Regions from separate parts of the Homo sapiens genome. Here region 2 is linked to region 1. Evidence: fine-mapped expression QTL. Tissue or cell type: whole blood. Region 1 holds a variant in brackets; the other region holds the start of a gene. All regions are shown on one strand. Distances are between the middles of the regions.

What was found. PIP is the estimated chance that this variant, and not a neighbour inherited with it, causes the effect.
Region 2: it holds the start of KAT6A, and the variant in region 1 is fine-mapped to the expression of KAT6A in whole blood (INTERVAL, PIP 0.98).

The regions. Positions count from the first base shown.
Region 1 is chr8:41,911,405-41,919,511 of GRCh38, reverse strand. No RefSeq gene overlaps it. Among named protein-coding and RNA genes, the nearest start is that of ANK1, 120 kb to the right of the region's middle. The variant C/G (reference allele first, on the strand shown) is at 3,432.
Region 2 is chr8:42,047,640-42,055,746 of GRCh38, reverse strand. It overlaps KAT6A (lysine acetyltransferase 6A), which reads left to right and starts at 3,760. Exons shown (of 17, transcript NM_006766.5): 1 at 3,760-3,846; 2 at 6,445-7,369. The coding sequence starts at 6,770. It overlaps KAT6A-AS1 (KAT6A antisense RNA 1), which reads right to left and starts at 3,997. Exons shown (of 2, transcript NR_136589.1): 1 at 3,762-3,997. RefSeq lists silencers at 862-1,156, 3,117-3,276, 3,467-4,096, 4,197-4,666 and enhancers at 2,626-3,146, 3,147-3,668.

The DNA.
Region 1 (8,107 bases):
GCACTCCAGCCTGGCGACAGAGCAAGACTCCATCTCAAAAAAAAAAAAAAAAAAAAGAAATTAGAAAATATTTTGAGCTGAATTATTTGCAACCCGTATGAAATAATGGATCTAGGCAAAGATTATCAAATGCCACTAGCATCTCAAAAAGAAACACCTGGGATATTGTGTGCCTTTTCATACCACCTATGAAAATACCCTTGTCAGAAAACCATGCTGGTTCTAAATGTGCTTCAATTTATCAGTTTACAGAAAACACAAGGGACAGAGGCACATGGTAAACACCACCACAGGGATGGAAGCAACCACATCTAGACCATGAGAAACTTCACAGGATAAATGACAGATCAATTACAAGGAATAATAGGAGAGGAGGGCATGGAGGGTGAAGATTAAGAGATTTAAGAAATATGTGAATGAAATGCATCCTGATTCTGAGAAATTACAACTTTTATGAGGTAGCAGTTTGAACACTGAAGATTTGATGATGTTGAGGATTTTCAACTTTAAGGTGTGAAATAGTGATATTGTCTTTATTTTTTGAAAGGTCATTTTATTTACAGTTAAATCCTGAAATAAGGCTGGGCGCGCTGGCTCATGCCTGTAATCCCAGCACTTTGGGAGGCCGAGGCGGGTGGGCCACGAGGTCAGGAGATTGAGACCATTCTGGCTAACACAGTGAAACCCTGTCTCTACTAAAAATACAAAAAATTAGCGGGTGTGGTGGCACATGCCTGTAGCCCCAGCTACTTGGGAGGCTGAGGCAGCAGAATTGCTTGAACCTGGGAGGTGGAGGTTGCAGTCAGCCGAGATCACACCACTGCACTCCAGCCTGGGTGACACAGCGAGACTCCATCTCAAAACAGACAAACAAAAAAAAGCTGAAATAAGTATTGATGCAAGGATATTGTGTCTGGAATTTGCTTCAAAATAATCCAGCATTGGTCTAAAGGAAATAATATTAACAATGAGCTGATAAATGTTGAAATTGGCTAGTGAGTACATGGGGTTTCATGATACTATTCTCTCTACTTTTGAAGATATTGAAAGGCTAAAGAAGTATTTAGAGGGAAATTTATGGCCTTAATGAAAAATGTATATAGTCAAAAAAAAGAAAAAAAGAGCCAAAGATGAATGGCCACTATGCACCCACTAGATTAACATTGAAAGGATTGAAAATATAAAGTATTGGCTGGGCGTGGCGGCTCACACCTACAATCCCAGAACTTTGGGAGGTGGAGGCAGGTGGATCACTTGAGGTCAGGAGTTTGAGACAAGCCTGACCAACATGGTGAAACCTCATCTCTATTAAAAATACAAAAATTAGCCAGGCGTGGTGGCGCACGCCTGTAATCCCAGCTACTTGGGAGGCTGAGGTGGGAGAATCACCTGAACCCGGGAGGTGGACGTTGCAGTGAGCTGAGATGGCACTACTGCATTCCAGCCTAAGCAACAGAGAGAAACTCCATCTCAAAAAAAAAAAAAAAAAAAGAAAAAGGAAAAGAAAAGAAATATAAAGTATTAATAAGAACATGAAGCAACTTATAAACTACTATGGGAGTATAAATTAGTTTAACTACTTTTGAAAGCTTCTTGGCGTTATCTGGTACAGTTGAAGTTATGCATGTTCCGTCCCTCAGCAATTCCACAGTAAGTTACAAACTTAGAGAAATACAAGTCCATGTGTCTCAGGGTACATGTACAAGAATGTTCATAACAGCATACATAATTTGCAGCGGCCCAAAACAGTCCACATACCGTCACAATAGAATGGTTATTTGCAGTATGTACATGCCGAATTCTACACGCCAATGAAATTTAAAGAACTACAGTTACATGCAATGAATGAATCTGAAGTATAATGTGCAAAAGAAGCCAAAAAAAGAATACCTAGGACACCGAAAAACACAATCCATTAAAGAAAAAAAATGATAAATTGAATTCCATTAAAAAAAAAACTGCTCTTTGAAAGACACCACTAAAAAATGAAAAGTTTGGCCACAGGGTGGGAGATATACATATTTACAATATGTATATCTGACAAAGGACTGGTGTCCAGATACGTAAGGAACTCTTTCAACTTGATAGTATAAACAATCTAATTTTTAAAAATGGTTAGGAGATTTGAACAGACACTTTACCAAAGAAGATATACGGATGACCACTAATACGTGAAAAGATGTTTAGTATCATTAGTAAGGAAATACAAATTACAACTGCAGTGAGATACTGTTTCCCACAATTAGAATGGAAAAGACTAAAAAGTGGCCATATTAAGTGTTGATCAGGACATGGAGAAATGTGTACTCTCATGTATCGCTGATGGCAGTGTAAGAGAGTAAACCACATTGAAAAGCAGTGCTCTGGCCATTTCTTAAAAAGTTAAACATACACTTCCCACATCCATCCCAGCAGGTCCACTCCTGGGTATTTACCCAAGAGAAACAGAAGCATATGTTCCCCCAAAGACTTCTGCACAAATGTCTGTAGCAGCTTGAGTCACAAATGACCAACACTGGAAAGAACCCAGATGTCCATTAGCTGTTGAGTGGACACACATGGTATAGCCATACAATGGAACAGTAACTGTCCAATAAAGGACATACACAACAATATGAGTGAATCCCAAAACCCTTTGCTGAACAAAAGAAGCCAGATTTGAAAGAGTGCTTTCTATATCATTCCACTTATATAAAGCTTTAGAAAAGGCAAAACTGCTGGGCGTGCCTGTACTCCCAGCAACTTGGGAGGCTGAGGCACAAGAATCACTTGAACACGGGAGGTGGAGGTTGCAGTGAGCTAAGATCATTGCCACTGCACTCCAGCCTGGGGGACAAAGTGAGACTCTGTCTAAAAAAAAACAAAAAACAAAAAACAACGCAAAACTGACCTACGGTGACGGAGAGCAGAAGGGGTTGCTGGGGATTGGGGGAGAGATTAACTGCAAAGGGCACAGGAAATTTCCGGGGCAATGGAAACATTCTGTATCTAGTTGACACCTAGCAAACTGCACATGAAAATGGATACATTTTACTGCATATAAATTATACCTAATCAAATTTAATTTTTTAAAAAACAAGTGATATTCATACACCCCAATAGCATTATTCATAATACCCCAAAGATGGAAACAACCCAAGTGTTCATGAACAGATGAATGGATGAACAGATGTGGTCTATTCACACCACGGGATATGACTCACCCTTTAAGAGGAGGGGGATGCTGCACACCCTGCACCGTGGATGCACCTTGAGGGCACAAGGAATGAAAGGGCCAGTTACAAAGGGACAGATCCCATGTAGATGAGGCACCTCCTGAGCCCTGCCTGGTGGTCACACCATCTGTCTGCAGGCCCCTGGATGGCCCACTAAACACCTGTGCCAGCTGCTGAGTGTCAGGTGGCTCCTATGCAGTTTCACAGTGGCAGTCA[C/G]TAAGTCATTGGAAACGCCTTGGCAGGGGGAGGGGATGTGTTGGGGGATTTTGAGTGGAGGAGTGTTATCGTCTGTCCTACATCTGAAGAGGGTCACTCGTGCTGTGGTGTGGAGGGCCAGGGTGGAAACGCGGGAGCAGCAAAGAGGCTACTGCGGTGACCTGGGTGAGACTTGATGGTGGCTGGGACGGGGAAGCCATGACGGAGGTGAAAGGAAGGTCAGGGCTCTGGTTATATTTTGAGTATAATACCAGCGCAATACCAAATTAAAGAGTTTGCATTCGGGTGGGTGGGTGTGGCAGAGATGGCAACTGAAGGGGAATTGCAGGTTTGGGGGGAAGATGGGGTCAAGATCTGAGACGGCCTTTGAAGCAGTGGTGAGGGTGGAGTGGAGTGAGGTGGGGCAGGAGTCTGAGACCGATACCTGGAAGAAAGCCTGGCGGTGGCCAGCAGACTAGGCCTGTTTGGGCTGAGTGACCCGGGAGAGGCACATAAAAGGGTGAGTGCATGAAGCCATGGGCTACCACCAACACCTTAGCATAAACTCGGCACTGGATCAGTCATGTGAACTTGAGGGAAATAGGCAAAGTAGATGCATTTTAATGGGTGCAGATAAGGGAGAAAGGTCTTACCTTGGGGCTCTGGGTGATAAATAGGATTATGGGGGGAGGGTGGAGGCTGAGGGGCATGGACAGCAGGAGAGACCTGGATATCTCCAAGTCAGGGAAAGGGGACAAGATGGAAGGGAAGGAAAATCTCCTACAAGCCTACACTAACAAGAGAGTGTGGTCCCAGCATAAAGACAGACATATAGACTGATGGAACAGAAGAAAGAGATCAGAAATAAACCCTCATGTGAAGACGGGCAACTGATTCTCAACAAGGATGCCAAGGTCATTCAGCAGGGAAAGGACAGTCTTTTCAACAAATAATGCTGAGAAAACTGGATATCCACATGCAGAATGAAGCCACATCTTGTTTCACACCACACACACACACACACACACGCACACGCGAAACTCAAAATGGATCACAAAACAAAATGTGAAAGCGAACTCTACAAAGCCCTTATTGGGGAAAAGTTTCATGACACTGAATTTGGCAGTGATTTCCCAGACATGACACCAAAAGCTCACACAACAAAAGAGAAAATAGACAAATTGAACTTCATCAAGATTAAAAACGTTTTGTGCATCAAAGGACACTATCAACAGAGAGAGAAGGAGACTCACACAATGGAAGAAAACATTTGCAAGTTTCATTTTGGAGAAATGATTAATATCTAGAATATACAAAGAATCTTACAACTCAATGACAAAAAACCAAACAACTCAATTAGAAATCGGGTGTGGCCAGGCGTGGTGGTTCATGCCTATAATCCCAGCACTTTGGGAGGCTGAGGTGGGTGGATCACTCGAGCCCAGGAGTTTGAGACCAGTCCGGGCAACATGGTGAAACCCTGTCTCTACAAAAAATACAAAAATTATCCAGCGGTGGTGGCGTGTGCCTATAGTCCCCGCTACTTGGGGGGCTGAGGGGGGAGGATTGCTTGAACCTGGGAGGCAGAGGTTGCAGTGAGCCTCAGTCATGCCACTGCACTCCAGCCTGGGTGACAGAGCTAGACCCTATCTCAAAAAAAAAAAAAAAAAAAAAAAGGGAAGAGAGAGAGAAATTGGATGAAGGACTTGAATAGATATTTCCCCAAATAGGATATACAAAAAACCAATAAAGACATGAAAAAAATGCTCAATATCGCTAATCTTTAGGGAAATATGAACCAAAAGCACATTGAGGTATGACCTCATACCCATTAGGCTTACTATTATCAAAAAACAGAAAACAGTAAGTATTGGCGAGGATGTAGTGTAACTGGAGCCCTTGTGCTCTGTTGGTAGGAATGCAAAATTGAATGACTGCTGTGGAAAGCAGTGGGGCAGTTTCTCAAAAAATTAAACAGAATTACCATATGATCCAACAATTCCACTTCTGGGCATATATCCAAAAGGAATGAAAGCAGGGGCTCACACAGACATTTGTCCACCCATGTTCCTAGCAGGCTACTTCACAATGGCCAAAGGCGAAATCAACACAAGTATCCACAGACAGAGGAACAGACCACAGAATATGGTCAATCCACACAATGGAATATTATTCAGCCTTAAAAAGGAAGGGTATTCTGACACATGCTGCAACAGAGATGCACCTTGGAGACATTATGCTAAGTGAAAGAAGCCAGTCACAAAAAGACAAATGTTGCACGATTCCACTTATAAGAGGTACCTGGAATAGGCAAATTCAAGAGACAGAAAGTTTGGCGCAAAAGTAATTGTGGTTTTTACATTGTTGAAATTTGCCATTTGACATTGGAATACATTCTTAAATCAATGTGGTTATGTTACACATCATTTTAATGTGCGTTTCTTACTTTTTTTTGCTAATGACATTACTGCTGTTTATTCTATATTTATTTTAGACTATGGAAATGATGTTAGACAAAAAGCAAATTTGAGTGATTTTCTTATTCAAGTTCAAAATGGGTCATAAAGCAGCAGAGACAACTCTCAACATCAACAATGCATTTGTCCCAGGAACTGCTAACAAACGTACAGTGCAATGGTGGTTCAGGAAGTTTTACAAAGGAGACGAGAGCCCTGAAGATGAGGAGTGTAGTGGCCGGCCATCGAAAGATGACAACGACCAACTGAGAGCCATCATCTAAGCTGATCCTCTTACAACCACAGGAGAGGTTGCCAAAGAACTCAACATCGACGATTCTATGGTCCTTTGGCATTTGAAGCAAATTGGAAAGGTAAAAAAGCTCGGTAAGTGGGTGCCTCATGAGCTGAGCAAAATTAAAAAAAAAACAAATTTGTCATTTTGAAGTGTCGTCTTCTCATATTCTACTCAACAACAAGGAACCATTTCGAGATTGAATTGTGACATGCCATGAAAAGTGGATTTTATACAACTGGTGATGACCAGCTAAGTGGTTGGACAAAGAAGAAGCTCCAAAGCACTTCCCAAAGCCAAACTTGCACCAAAAAAGGGTCCTGGCCACTGTTTGGCGGTCAGCTGCTGGTCTGATCCACTGCAGCTTTCTGAATCCCGGCAAAACCATTACACCTGAGAAGTATGCTTGGCAAATCTATGAGATGCACCGAAAATTGCAACGCCTGCAGCCAGCAGTGGTCCACAGAAAGGGCTCGATTCTTCTCTGACAATGCCCAACCGACTGCACATCACACAACCAATGCTTCCGAAGTAAACGAATTGGGCTGCGAAGTTTTGCCTCATCTACCACATTCACCTGACCTCTCGCCAACCAACTACCACTACTTCAAGCATCTCAACAACTTTTTGCAGGGAAAATGCTTCCACAACCAGCAGGAGGCAGAAAATGCTTTCCAAGAGTTTGTCGAATCCCAAAGCATGGATTTTTACGCTACAGGAGTAAACAAACTTATTTCTCATTGGCAAAAATGTGTTGATTGTAATGGTTCCTATTTTGATTAATAATGTGTTTGAGCCTAGTTATAATGATTTAAAATTCATGGTCCTAAACCTCAATTACTTTTGCACCAACTTAGGCACCCCTGGAGAGTGGTTACCAGGGGCTGCAGGGAGGGCGGAATGGGGAGTTACTATTTTTTTTTTTTGTTTGGAGTGCAGTGGCGCGATCTCGGCTCACCACAACCTCCACCTCCCGGGTTCAAGCGATTCTCCTGTCTCAGCCTTCTGAGTAGCTGGGACTACAGGTACATGCCACCACGCTGGGCTAATTTTTGTATTTTTAGTAGAGACGGGGTTTCACTATGTTGGCCAGGCTGGTCTCAAACTCCTGACCTCATGATCCTCCCACCTCGGCCTCCCAAAGTGCTGGGATTACAGGCATGAGCCACCGCGCCAGGCTGGGAGTTACCATTAACAGGAACAGAGCTGCAGTTTGGCAAGAGGAGAAGGTTCTGGAGGTGGATGGTTTTGATAGTTGCACAACAATGTGAATGTAGTTAATGCCCCTGAACTGTGCATCTAAAAATAGTGAAAACGGTAAATATTTGTGTTATATATAGGTTGCTATATATATTTTTTTTAAGTGAAGAAGGAGAGCCAACAAAGGAGTGCCAGGAACCAGTTTATTCATAATCATTTCTAAGAGACAGCCCTCATCGTGGGGCTGGGGGTCTAAAGGGTTCGTGGCTAGCAGGAAGGTGGGTTGGGCCCCCTGAGAGCAGGGTCAAGTGAGGGATCAGGGGAGCTTGAGAGCTCACAGCGCCTGCAGGAAGGATAAATAAGGAGCAGTGGAAAGGAAACTAGGCTCTCACTGGCAGGAGTCCTCCTCGGTGGTTCTGCCAGGAGGTAACCAAGACTCTCCAGGAGAGAGATGTCAGAGCACACAGAGCAGCCAAAGAAGAGCCTTAACATTCTGTTGTTGGGCTGGGTGCGGTGGCTCATGCCTGTAATCCCAGCACTTTGGGAGGCCAAGGTGGGTGGATCGCCTGAAGTCAGGCGTTCAAGACCAACCTGGCTAACATGGTGAAACCCCGTCTCTACTAAAAGTACAAAAATTAGCTGGGCATGGTGGCAGGCACCTGTAATCCCAGCTACCTGGCAGGCTGAGGTAGGAGAATCGCTTGAACCCAGGAGGCAGAGGTTGCAGTGAGCTGAGGTCGCGCCAT
Region 2 (8,107 bases), 140 kb before region 1:
ATTGCACTCATGAACCCAAGTAGGATAAATACAAAGAAAACCACATCTACACACGTCATAGTAAAGCTGTTGACAACCAAAGACAAGAAAAAATCCTAAAAGGAGTCAAAGGAAAAAAGACATTACTTTCAAAGGAATAAAAGGGAGTGACAGAAACCAGAAGACAATGGAAGAACATCTTCAAAGTGCTGGGAAAAAAAAACCAAAAAACAAAAAAAACTTGCCAAATCAGAATGCTATACCCAGCAAAAATATGAAGGATAATGCAAAGTTTTAGGCAATAAAACCCCACAAAAAACAAAAAGCAAAAACTCAAACAACCTTGGAGAGAACTTGTCATCAGCAGACCTGCTGTAAAACAGGGGAATTATTCAAATAGAAGGAAAACCTTCAGACAGAAGCACAGAAATGCATATTGGAATGAAGAGCAATATAAGGATAAATATGGAGGTTAATCTAAATGAGTACTTATTGTACAGAACAATAAGTATAAATTCTTGTGTGGCTTAAAATACACACACAATTAAAATCCTTGACGACAATAAACACAAAAGGGAGATGGGTAGGTGGAGATACAGTATTTTAATGTCTTAGCATTCCCGGGGAAGTGGTAAAAGTAATTATTTTGTATAAGATCATAAGTCAAAAAGCAATGTTGTAATCTCTAAAACTAGTAATGTATAATTTAAAAATTAATAGAGGGGGTTAATGATATAGTTAAAATATTTTAATTAATTCAAAAGAAGGCAAAAAGCAGAGAACAAGGAATGTGAAATAGGTGATCCAAAATAAATGGTAAGATGGTAGGCATACATCCACATATACCAGTAATTATATTAAATGTAAATGGACTAAAAATGTTTCCTGTTGAAACCAGGACAGAGCAAACTTCCAATTTCAGGCTGGCATGGACTCTGTATAAGACACAAGTACCAAGTACAAGTGAAAAGGCAGGGATTCCTAGAGCAAAATATGCAAGGGGGAAATAACCTTTAGTTGCCAGCTCCACAGGGCTGAATCGTGAGTAAAGTTTGAGCTAAGAAAAACTATCCTTTCAGAGTGCAGATTGCTTTTTAACTTGCAAATGATGAGGACTTTAATCCGTCTTTGTTGCAAGATTTTTATTTTGAGAAGACCTCCTGAATGTGCCATTTAGTTATGCAAATGTAAAGCAGAGACTCTTTATGGAAGCTGTGTGAAAAGCTCAACTGTGCTTTGTTGTTATAAATTGTTTTAAATTCTTGCTACTGTTTAATCCCCAGTTTGGTCTTTTCACAGGATGGCTGTGGCTAGTTTTCTTCCAAATTATCCAAAAGTAAACACAACTCATCTCTGTATTATTTTTCTTCTGAAGGCCACACACTCTAGTCTCACATGAAGAACTCATTGTCTTTGCATTAATATGACTTTATCTGCCCTCTTTGGGAAATAAAAATCTGCCTATTCTACTAAAAGAAAATACATATATATATATATATATATATTTTTTTTTTTTTTTTTTTTTTTTTTTTTCCTGGAGGTGATTTCATTACAAACAGGGACCATTTTACCTGAGAATGTGTCTATCTGATTCATCTAGGATGAAAGAGATCCTTTCTATTGGATTATCATGTATTCCAAATTTCTCTACTGCTTTGGAGATGGGGCTTGGAAGTAGGCGATGAATGGCAACTCAGTCAACCTCACTACATTACACTTCTGTTTCTGTCAGTGTCAGGATATTGATTAGGCTGGACCATGATCTGAAAAGTTACGTTATTCTTACTGAATGGTCCAGAGTCTACCGTATGGAGGGTAGGGCTATGGATTAGAGTGGAGACGGGATAGATAGAAAAGTTTGGGTTCCCTCTTGCTGTGTCTCTCAGGCTGGAGTGTAGTGGCGATCATAGTTCACTGCAGCCTGGAACTCCCGGGCTCAAGCAGGCCTCCCGAGTAGCTGGGCTACAGCAGCGCCCCGCCACAAACGGCTTTCTTAACGGCTTAAAAAATTGTTCATTCACGAGCAACATTTTTTTATTTTAAACCGCCTACTACAGTACTTGTACAACATTATTCTAGGTGCTGGAGATGCAGAGTCATTATAGGAGAGCATTTACCAGTGAATGTATTCGGAATATATATATATATATATATATATCACATGTAAGTGCAAAATGACTAGAGCAAATGATACTACTACAGAAGTTCAGAAAAGGAAGTCAGCATGGAAGTTAAGGCAGTGGGTGAGAGGGAGGCCCTTAAAAGCTAAAGCTGAGATAAAATGAGGTATTGCGGGCGACAGTCTAGGCGGGGTGTGTCGTATGGGGTTGGGGACAGGGCAGATAAAGGTCAGGCAGCAGGATACACGTCCATGTCAACGATTAAACATTTAGTGTCTTTTTCATGTCTACTGTCTTTCTAGTGAATGCAGAAAAAAAAAAAATGCATGACTTGGCCAGGTGCAGTGTCTCAGGCCTGTAATCCCAGCACTTTGGGAGGCCGAAGAGGGCGGATCACTTGAAGTCAGGAGTTCGAGACCAGCGGCCTGGCCAACATAGTGACACCCCGTCTCTACTAAAAATACAAAAATAAGCCAGGCGTGGTGGCGGGCGCCTGCAGTCCCAGCTACTCAGGAGGATGAGGTAGGAGAATCGCTTGAACCCAGGAGACGGAGGTTGCAGTGAGCCAAGATCGCACCACTTGCACTCCAGCCTGGGCAACAGAGCGACACTGTCTCAAAAAAAAAAAAAAAAGTATGACTCAGTCTCTGCATCAAAGAGTTTAAAGTAGATGAAAGGCAAGACAAAGAAACGTCCATACAGCCAGTAGTGGACAGGCAGGCCATGAAGAACCGCCTGCTCGTGGTTCCAACGCCCTAAGTATGGACAAGAGTTCCGCACAGGGCAAGAAGGGAAGACCGGCTTTGGAATAAGACAAATCTCAGTCCCAGGCTCAGGTGCGCGCCACATACTAGCTGTGTGACCTTGTCCAAGTCACACGACCCAGGTCTGTGGAGTCTCCCATAAAATGGCTCTAGTGAGCTCCAAGAACCCTCTCAGCTGCTGGGGGAGGGAAGAAATGAAGTCACTGCTGAAAGGGGTTAAGACGGGTGCTTCTGGTTCCACCCTCTCCCCAACTCTTCCCACCGACACAGGAGAGCCGTCGGGGGCTGAGGCGAGCTGCCAGGGGTGAGGACGGGAAGCCGCCTCCTCTCCGCCCCCCAGGCCCCGCCCTCGGGCTCCGGAAAGTCGCTGTGCAGGCAAATGAGTGGGGAGGGAGGGCTCACTAACTGTAAACAGACGCCGCCGAGAGTTCCCATCCTGCGTGGCTGCCGGATTTCCGTGCCACACTGAAGCCACCCCACCCAGACTCCTGCCCTCAGTTTCCCCAGCGGTGGCATGGGGTGCACCAGCTCCTCCTCTCCCGGGTCGCCGTCTGACTTAAACGCGTGAGACGGGAGAGGAGGAACCCCCGCTCCCCAGCCTCCAGCCCCACCAAGTCCTCCTCCTCCCCTGGCTTTGGCCTTTTGTACCGGCCCCACGTGACCCCGCCGGCCGGCTCTTCCCTGCTGCCCCGCCCCGCCCTCCGGCCTTTCCCGGCTCTCGGCCCAGCTCTTCCCGCTCTCGGCCGCCCCCCACCCGCGCTGCCGGGCCTCCGCCTCCCCTCGCCGCCCGCCCAGGCTCTTCCAGCTCCCTCCCCCAGGCCGCCGTTCCCTCGCGACGCTCCCCTCCCCCCGCGGCTGTTCCGCCGCCTTGCCTCCCCTCCCCCCGGCTGGAGCTCACTGTCTCCAAGATGGCGGCCGTGTCAGTTTGGGGCATCTCCGCGGTCCGGCCCGGGGCCCCGGGATCTCGGCTGTCCTTCCTCCCGGTAAGTAGCCGAGGGGCCGTTCCCGGCCGCCCCCGGCCGCCCAGCCCGAGGCCGAGCCGCTCCAGGGCCCACTCCGCTGCCTCGCGGGGTCGGCGGGCCGCTGCAGGCCCCGCCGCGGCCTGCGCCGCCTCCCGCTGCTCTGCGCCAGGCCTCGGGCTGGGGCGCCGTGGCCGCCCCCTCGCGCCCGCCCGCTCGCTCGCTCGCTTGCTCGCTTGTTCGGCGCCCGGCTGCCCCGGCCCGCGGCCCGCGCGCCGCCGCCCGGCCCCGCGCTCGCGGGCCCCGCGCCCCCGATCCCGCCGGCCGGGCCCGCCCTGGGGGAGCCGGCGGGTGGGCGGGCGGCGAGCGGCCCAGGCCGCGGAGCCTCGGGCTGGCGGAGCCGGCGAGCCCGCTCTCCCTCGGGGCGCGCCCACCCGCCCGCCGCGCGCGTGCCGGCTGTGCCGGGCCGGGCCGCTTCTCCCCGCGCTCGCGGGCGCTCGGGTTCGGGCTCGGGCTCGGGTTCCGGCTCCGGCTTTGGCTCCGGCCGGGGGCGCGGGGATCCGAGCGGGGCTGAGGCGGCGAGCGGGGCTGACAGGCCGGCGGGTGTTGTGGTGCGAGGCGCAGCACGTGTGGTGTTGTGTCTGCCGGGCTGTCAGCCCAGCCGCCGAGGGGAGGCCGGGCGCCTGTCAACCTCGCGGCTTGGCCCGGTGCGCGACTGTCAGGCTCCCAGCAACCCGCGCCGCCCTCGAGCCGGCCCCCAGAGCTTAGGGTGCGGAGCTGGGCCGGGGCTATGCACCGCTCTGAACTCCTTCACGTGATTTCATTGTTAACTTGTGCTCGGGGTCTGTTTCCATCGCGTGGAAACGGTGCAGCGCCCCGTCGGCGAGCTGCCGGGCTGTGCAGATCCAAGTTTTTAAAGTTTCTCGCTCTTTGAAAAGAGAGCGCGAAGACGTGTTTAGGGGTGGGGAATGGGGACGGGAAGGACTGTCGGAAGCGAGTTGCGCTCGCTCTAGCCGCTCGTGTACTTTCCGGGAGTTAAGATCCGAGGCTGCAGGCGCTTGACTTTCCGAAGACCTGGAGACTGATGACAATCCCGACTGGAAAGACAATGAGTGACTGTCACTCATTCTTTTACCTGCGAAGCTTAGTCAATTAGGACGTTCGTTCCCAGCTTGTTAAACTCAGGATGTAGCTTCTCATTTAGTTTAGACTTAATATCTGTATAATGAGCTTACTTGGAGTAATGATACTCTGATTTCTATCCTCTTGAGACCCTCACCAAATTGAAGCATGATTCTCCCAGGGGGCTTCTTTTTAGGCAGCTGATTTAAAAACAAATCTTGGCTCAGGTTTGAATGTTTGCTTCACTCTTTTCTTTCCTATCAGAGTTAATAGTAATATCTCTTTCCTAGTGTGTATTAGTTTTCCGTTTGATTTTAATGTCACTACCAAGAATAGTTGCTGTGGGAGCCATTTGTCTAGCATTGTTTATATTGTAATGCAAATGATCTCCAGAATGAGAGCAGAAGTTCTAAAAAACACTTCAGTTAAACTTATTTTTGGAGGCAAAAGAGTTAGATTCAGAATTCAGTACTTTAGTGATTAAACAAGATTGCATCTACCAGATTCTTTTATAGGGATACTGACTTTGATTCAGAGAGACAGTACATTTCTGTTTATGTTTTATTAATGTTCGTTTCAGGACAGCAATCTTGAATTTATATCTTTATTATTTGGGCTTCTCTTTAGTCCTACAAGTAGCCAGTGTATTTCTTTTTCTGTACCGTCCGTTTGATATGTAGTATGTGCGTTGACCCCAGTGATTCTGGGCCTTCCTCATTTCTAGTTTTCCTGTCTGAATTACTTACACGCAGTTTGACAGTTGTGACTCTCTTCAGCATATGAATAGAAACATCTTAGTTTGGGTTAGGAGAAGCTATCAGCATGTAATTCTTAAAATTTGAATGAAAGTGGATTATTGTTAAATTCAGTAAGCACTTTTACTCTAGGCTATTTTCAATAGTATTTTTGTTTCCATTAGGAGAGATTAAGGTAATACTGTACTTAAATTATAAACTGGGTGTGCATATTGTATTCATTCTTTTCATGTAAGAACTAAAATTTTCTCAGTCGTTTTCTGCCTTATTGACTGTTTTTGTCTACTCTGAATGTCTAGAATTTTGAAAGATGAAAGATTCACTTTTACTTTCATTGCAGGATTCTTTCTACTAATCCAGATACTTGTTGAAGTGCTGACTAGTTTCTTGGGGAAAGATGTCAAGGAAGAGTTGAAATTCCTAGACTGGTGAGCAGAGATTGCGGAGTACAGAATAGCCATCACCCACTCTGGTTAGTGGTAGCTTAAAGGTCATTCTTAGAACATGTCATCGTGTTTCCTCATTGTATCCTAATTACTCATCTTTTTTTTTTCTTTTCTTTTTTTTTCTTTTTTATCCCAATGGTTTACATACATGATTGTTTTGGAATATTAATAGATAAGTTTGGAAATTCTTAAGGGTGCCTAGTAAACACTTGCTGTTTGATTGCTTTATGATGAGGATGCTTATTTTCATTCGAAATAGGTCTTGGTAGAAAACTGACCTTATTTTCATTGCTTTTCAGGCATAAGATGCACATTTTTCTGCTCTGGAGCCGGGAATGAAATATTCTTGAGTTCTTACAACTTTATGACGAGACCCATGTGTGGTGCTATTGAGAAATTCATTGGGAAGTTGGAAGACATTTCAATCAACAGGTTGTTTTGGTTTCTATAGTACAATTGGGGTGGCATTCTGTTTTGTGAAAGGAGGAAGGACTTAGGCCAGAAAACTCATATGCTATGGTTAACTGGTTCCCAGCCTCCGAGAATCTTGTTTTCCATGGTGTAAAACTTACTCAGCATCAGGATAAGGGATAACGACTCTATGGATATACAGAATCCTTCACCATGGTAAAACTCGCAAACCCGCTTTATACTGAGTGGATTTTGGAGGCCATCAAAAAAGTGAAAAAGCAGAAACAGCGTCCTTCAGAAGAAAGGATATGCAATGCTGTGTCTTCATCCCATGGCTTGGATCGTAAAACTGTTTTAGAACAATTGGAGTTGAGTGTTAAAGATGGAACAATTTTAAAAGTCTCAAATAAAGGACTCAATTCCTATAAAGATCCTGATAATCCTGGGCGAATAGCACTTCCTAAGCCTCGGAACCATGGAAAATTGGATAATAAACAAAATGTGGATTGGAATAAACTGATAAAGCGGGCAGTTGAGGGCTTGGCAGAGTCTGGTGGCTCAACTTTGAAAAGCATTGAACGTTTTTTGAAAGGTCAGAAGGATGTGTCTGCATTATTCGGAGGCAGTGCTGCCTCTGGCTTTCACCAGCAGTTACGATTGGCTATCAAACGTGCCATTGGCCACGGCAGACTCCTTAAAGATGGACCTCTTTATCGGCTCAACACTAAAGCAACCAACGTGGATGGGAAAGAGAGTTGTGAGTCTCTTTCCTGTTTACCTCCAGTGTCCCTTCTTCCACATGAAAAGGATAAGGTAAGAATGGCATATGCTTCGGGGTTTATAGAGCTGATGATATAGGATGCTACAAATTCACATTTCTGGGAAGTTATATTCAAGTTTTTTGTTTGGGGACTTCTGTGGAGTGATCACCTCTGGTTTTTTATTGGTGAGTTGTAGCTATGAGAGCTTCATAGATTTGTTCTGGTACTTTGAAATATTTGAAGCCTAAGATTAAAAATGTAGAATGTTAATCTGACTAAAAGAACTTATTTACATTACAATGAAAAAGTGACATATGAGTTTAAAACTTTTTTTTAAATTTTTTTTTATTATTTTGCTTGAGGAGTACTCCAGCGTGAGACTTTAAAACTTTAACTAAAGGTTCTTAGAACACCTTACTACTGGAAGTTGATGAGCAGCCAAATCATGGAGACTTGAATTTGAAACAAGCAGATGACTCTGAGAACATTTTTCTGTTTTCCATTTTGTTGCAGATTACTCGTTAGACAGAAATGAGACAGATTCTCATGACCCATAGGCGCAACTAAGCAAACTTAGCAATTCTTGTTTCTGCTGTTTGTATTATAGCTTTCTGTCATGTATTATGGCTTTGCATATGATGAAGTCCTAAATGCTATTTATGACAGCTGTAGTTGCATGGGACAGGAATACAGTATCCTAAACTAGAAAAGTTCTGGAGGGTCTGGAACAGTAGTTCATGCCTGTAATCCCAGCGCTTTGGGAGGCTGGGACAGGAGGATGTCTTGAGCC